2 separate regions of the Homo sapiens genome follow, and region 2 is linked to region 1. Evidence: fine-mapped QTL for protein levels in blood plasma. A gene starts in region 1. The other region holds a variant in brackets. All regions are shown on one strand. Distances are between the middles of the regions.

Evidence for each region. PIP is the chance, under the fine-mapping model, that this variant and not a neighbour inherited with it causes the effect. Protein levels are from antibody-based Olink assays in UK Biobank. Linkage for the fine-mapping came from a reference panel and not from the study's own genotypes, which makes the PIPs less certain.
Region 2: its variant is fine-mapped to the plasma level of the NECTIN4 protein (UK Biobank, PIP above 0.99).

The regions. Positions count from the first base shown.
Region 1 is chr1:161,088,371-161,091,381 of GRCh38, reverse strand. NECTIN4 (nectin cell adhesion molecule 4) reads left to right here and starts at 1,824. Exons shown (of 9, transcript NM_030916.3): 1 at 1,824-2,164. The coding sequence starts at 2,086. NECTIN4-AS1 (NECTIN4 antisense RNA 1) reads right to left here. Exons shown (of 4, transcript NR_183641.1): 4 at 650-3,011.
Region 2 is chr1:161,073,106-161,075,605 of GRCh38, reverse strand. It overlaps NECTIN4 (nectin cell adhesion molecule 4), which reads left to right. Exons shown (of 9, transcript NM_030916.3): 5 at 847-995; 6 at 1,233-1,389; 7 at 1,811-1,886; 8 at 2,307-2,381. Among named protein-coding and RNA genes, the nearest start is that of ARHGAP30, 4.5 kb to the right of the region's middle. RefSeq lists an enhancer at 177-853. The variant G/A (reference allele first, on the strand shown) is at 1,217.

The DNA of each region.
Region 1 (3,011 bases):
AGGGCCTCTGACCTGCAGGAAATAGCCCCTGAAGAAGAGGTCACTGCCGTGGTCATTTGGCATCTAGAGCCAGAGTTGGGGTCATAGTCCAGTGACAGGAGTAAAGTCCAGGTCACAACCCTAGTTCAGGATAGTAACTCACAGCCAGTCGGGATCTCTGCTTTACTGATCCGACTTCACCATCCTTTTCATCCGGACAACTCATTTATTCAGAAATTCATGGCTTCACCAAAATGTAGTCAGTTCCCATGAAATGCTGTGGCCTGTCCTAGCATGGAAGACTGAGACAAGATTATAAAACAAGCCCAACTTTCAAGGAGTTCACAGGCTACAACTCTTGTCCTGTCCCGCAATTTAATACATTTACTGAATTCCTGGCACACAGCAGGCCTCAATCGATGTTTTTTTGACTTGAAGCTTACAATTTAGTTAAGGAGATAAGATGTGCACAAATTATGAGCACATAAGCTATAATAAAAGGACTAGCAAAGGCTGAGGAAGAATAGAAGAAAGATTAATTTGGGGTGGGAGGAGCAGAGAAGGCTTCACGAAGATGTGGCATTTGAGGTCAGCTTTGAAAGATGAATAAGAGTTTGACAGGTAGAGTTGGTGGGGATGGTGGTGGTAGAAAATCTACACAGAACAACTCTTCCTTATGGCTTCTTTATTCCTCCTTTCTGCCTTCTCCAGATGGAAGGGTCCTATGGCAAAACTTTAACCTATATTTTTTTCTTCTCCCACGTCTATCTCTGTATTTACCTGGTTTTTGTATTAGCCCTAGACTGCAAGTGATGTTGTCCCTCCCGTTCACTAAATTTTCAGTGGGCTCAGAATATGCCCTCTTCCTCTGGCTATCCCAGGGAGGCCAGGAAGGTTTTGTGTAATTTGGCGGTCACTTTTTATGCATTCAGAATGGAAACACATGGTCTGACAAGGATGTACTTATAGGAATACAGGGCTAGAGTACTTGAAATTAAGATTCTCCTTGCAAAGTCCAGACATGTGGTCTTGTCCAATGACCTTGGAGTAAACTGGGTAAAATGGCCATGGAGAGGGTAGAGAGGAACCTCTCTCCATTCAAGTTGTGCTGCTGCGCTTTTGGGACTCCTGGCCAGGTAACAAGGTGTTGAAGCTGAGAGAGGGCCCTGATAGGGAAACCAGGAACCCCTACGGCTAATTCCTTGGCCACTTCCTTGGCCTCTTATATATGGAGGTGGAGTTAGAGGAGTTACGTAAGTTCTTTCTCAGGGGTCTTTGAACTACTTCCCTACTTCAGGGATAGAGGTGTCTGAGCAAACCATGAGACTAAGTTGTGTGTCCTCTGGCAAGTCCCTCCCCTTCTCTGGGCCTTGGTTTTCTCTTCTGAAGAATGAAGTATACAGCGCAGCACTGACAGACTCCTTCCTCCTCAGTTCTGGCCTTCTCCGATTCTGTGGCTCCAAAGCTGAGACCCTCCAGGAGATCCGGGAACTTGTCAAGGCCCCCAGGAGGTACCAAGGCTAGCTGGGGTGTGGGACGCTTGGGTTCCTTTCTACCCACAAGGGCCTTGCCCCTTTCATCCTGGCCTGGCCTGGTGCCCTGGGCCTCCCTTAGTCCCCACCCTTGCCTCTCCCTTCATAGCCCCTTCCACATACTCGCAGGTAAAGCCTGGAGCTGAGGATGGGACCCCACCGCCCCCACCCAGGTCCTTCCCTCCTTCCCTCCCTCCCTGGCGCCTATTAGCTAGCCCAGGCCATGGGGGCGGTGGCTGCTGAGTCTCCGTGCCAGGCCCAGCCCCCAGAGACGCACCTGTTCTGACCTGCTGAGCAGGTTCCCAGGTTTCTGCCGTCGTTGTTGGCCACAGCGTGGGAAGCAGCTCTGGGGGAGCTCGGAGCTCCCGATCACGGCTTCTTGGGGGTAGCTACGGCTGGGTGTGTAGAACGGGGCCGGGGCTGGGGCTGGGTCCCCTAGTGGAGACCCAAGTGCGAGAGGCAAGAACTCTGCAGCTTCCTGCCTTCTGGGTCAGTTCCTTATTCAAGTCTGCAGCCGGCTCCCAGGGAGATCTCGGTGGAACTTCAGAAACGCTGGGCAGTCTGCCTTTCAACCATGCCCCTGTCCCTGGGAGCCGAGATGTGGGGGCCTGAGGCCTGGCTGCTGCTGCTGCTACTGCTGGCATCATTTACAGGTAGGACTTGCCTGAACCATCAGGACACTTGCTTCTGAGCCCAACCTGGCACTGACACACATGCACAAACACATAGACACACACGCACGCACACACATATCCTCCTTTCTTTGACTCTGAACTGAGGATCCAGTCTCTCCTGCCCCCAGCTTCCAGCAGTGCCCCCAGAAAAGCCAGTATAGCCCTCCCCCTTCTTGTTTCCTCCCAGCCCCCAGGCCAGGTCACTATGTCTGGGATCCCTGACACCTCTGCCAAAGCCTTGCCTAGGCCTGAGCTGTCTTGGGGAATAGACGTGGTGACCCAGTGTAGATGGGCAGGCAGGTGGGACTTGTGAGGATCCTGTTCACCCCAGGGTTTCCTAGAGGTGCCTTGGCCTACCCCCTGGGCTCTGGAACGGCTGCCTGGAACTGGGGCTGACTCAGAGCTCAGCTGGTTTCTGCAGTCATCAGGGTGCAGGAAGCCTGATGCCCAGAGAGTGGATGGGGGATTTCTATTTCCTTCTTTTCTCTCCATGATGTTCTAGAGCACCAGGACTGGGGCACCTGTTGGGGACTATAGGAGAGCTGAGAATGCCCGTCACTCTGACCCCTTCCTTTCCCTGGGCACAATATTAGGTGCCAGGGTGGTAATAAGGGGGTTTAGATGGATGGGGGTCTAAGGAAGGGAACCTTCTAGATAGGGTGTGGTCCCCATTTGTTCATCTCCTGTTCCCCCATTTTCTTAACTAGATGCCTTGTATTACTTCTCACCTCCTGTCTGTCTAATGCATATAGAGCAAATATGAATTATAGGAATGTATAATCTTCAGAGTAGAGGAGAGTGTGTGTGCGTGTGTGTGCACAGTGAG
Region 2 (2,500 bases), 16 kb after region 1:
AGAGATGGGCTTTCACCATGTTGACCACGCTGGTCTCGAACTGCTGACCTCGGGTGATCCGCCAGCCTCGGCCTCCCAAAGTGCTGGAATTATAGGCGTGAGCCACCATGCCCGGCCTTGTCTAACTTTTAAATTGTGAAATATAACACAATATTTCGATATTAATATTTTATATATTTATGTGAGTGCATAAAATGGACAAGACAGCTGTGTCTTTTTCTAATTGTTGTTAAGCCAACACTCCTATAACCACCACAATATTGCTAGCACCTCAAAAACACCCACTACCTCCAGTTCCCTCAAGGCATCCTTGGCCTTTTTCCAAGATCTGAAATATCTAGAGAGTCAGGGAGAGGTTGGGTACACATGTGTGTGAGCACATCATGGGCATGTTCTCACATGTGAGCATATGAGCGATGCATGTGGCCTTGTGCCTGGGGCTATGTTTGTGTATCCTGCCATGCAACATCACGGGTGTTGGAGCAGGCAGTCACATTTTCCAATTACCTCTACACCCAGCTAGGAGTGGAGTGTCCTGTTGTGTGGACTTTATAACATGTGTACCTGGTACCCAGTGTTGGATGACGTGATGCCTGTGGAAGCATGTGGGATGGCACACGTGTGGATCTTCCCCGGGTGTGTGTGGGGGGTGCCCAGGTCAGGCTGGGCAGCAGGGAGAAAGGACCTCTGCCTAGACCTGCCTGGTGGAGGGAGGGGCACCGTGGGAACAGCCTGCGGCTCTGGGTGACGTCATGGGGGTGGAGGGTGGAGAGCTGTCTGGACACGTTGGGTGGTGGTGGCTTCAGCCCTTCCCGGCTGGCACCCTTCAGCTTCCCTGTCTTCCAGGCTGGATGGGCCTCTGCCCAGTGGGGTACGAGTGGATGGGGACACTTTGGGCTTTCCCCCACTGACCACTGAGCACAGCGGCATCTACGTCTGCCATGTCAGCAATGAGTTCTCCTCAAGGGATTCTCAGGTCACTGTGGATGTTCTTGGTAAGCACTGGAGCAGAAGTCCTTGGTAAGGACCTGGGCCAAGGGCTTGGTGGGGGCAGCAGGAAGCAAGACAGAGACAGTGAATTGGGAAAGTGTTTATTCAGAGGGGGCTGGGCTGTGTGTCTTGCAGAGAATCAAACTGAGGTGTGGTTTTAGATGTTTTGCGGGGGAGCTGTGAGGTCTGGGGTGGGTTGTGGCTGCAGGCTTCCACCTCAGACAGT[G/A]GCCTGTCTCCAGCAGACCCCCAGGAAGACTCTGGGAAGCAGGTGGACCTAGTGTCAGCCTCGGTGGTGGTGGTGGGTGTGATCGCCGCACTCTTGTTCTGCCTTCTGGTGGTGGTGGTGGTGCTCATGTCCCGATACCATCGGCGCAAGGCCCAGCAGATGACCCAGAAATAGTGAGTACTGGGCACTCCTGGGTGGGTAGAACTAAGCTGAGAACAAAGAAGAGGATAGCAGGAGGTGGGCCAGGACCGAGGAGACTGGGTAGGCTGAAAACTGAGGAGTTTCAGACTAGAGGTGGGCAGGGTGTTTCTAGGGCTGAGGAGGAGCTAAGGGTCTGGAGCACAGATGGAGCACTCAATCCTTCCACCTTAGTGAGGCTCAGATCCATGTGCCTGGATGTTGCCAAGTATGCACACGCACACAGCACACACATGCTCTTCAGCCTCACTGCCACCTGCAGCCACACACTCACACTTGCAGGGCCAGCACGGCACCCACACCCTCCGGGCCTGTCTCACTAGGCTCAGCCAGGATAGGCTCACCTTGGGAGGCTGCCACTACCCTCAGCTCCTGACAAGGGTGTGTCTTTCCCAGTGAGGAGGAGCTGACCCTGACCAGGGAGAACTCCATCCGGAGGCTGCATTCCCATCACACGGACCCCAGGAGCCAGGTGTGTGCCAAGGTTGGGTGTATGCATGCAGGGGTGTGGTCGCATTGGGGTCTGCTTGTGCCTGGGCCCCTCTGCAGACCAGGAGCACAGCTCTCTGCTGGGTCAGCCACTGACTCACAGCTGGGGTTGGCCGGGGTAGAGTTGAGAGGGTGTAGCTGCTTTGGGTCTGCTAGGGCTGCTCCAGAAGGCCCCCTTCAGCATTGGCCTAGGGCCTTTTCTGGGAAGCCACCATCAGTTCTGCTTCCAGGGTGGGTTTGTGGTCGCAGTGGGGAAATGAGGATGTTTGTTTCCAGGAGAGAATGGACCTGTTGGGTTGGGGGACAGGCAAGTAGGGAGGAGGCTGGTGGAGGACAAGAGGGGAAGAGGCTGAGGGGAGGAGGCTGAGCCCTGTTCTAACTGCCCCGTGTCTGGGCCCTGCAGCCGGAGGAGAGTGTAGGGCTGAGAGCCGAGGGCCACCCTGATAGTCTCAAGGACAACAGTAGCTGCTCTGTGATGGTGAGGCCCCCGGCCCCACCGGTGTCCCCACCACTCTCCTCGGGCCCCTGTCCTGGTCCCAGATATGGTGCGTCAGCAGCCCCCTTACCAGTCCCTCTTTCCTTAGCCCTGGCTCATGC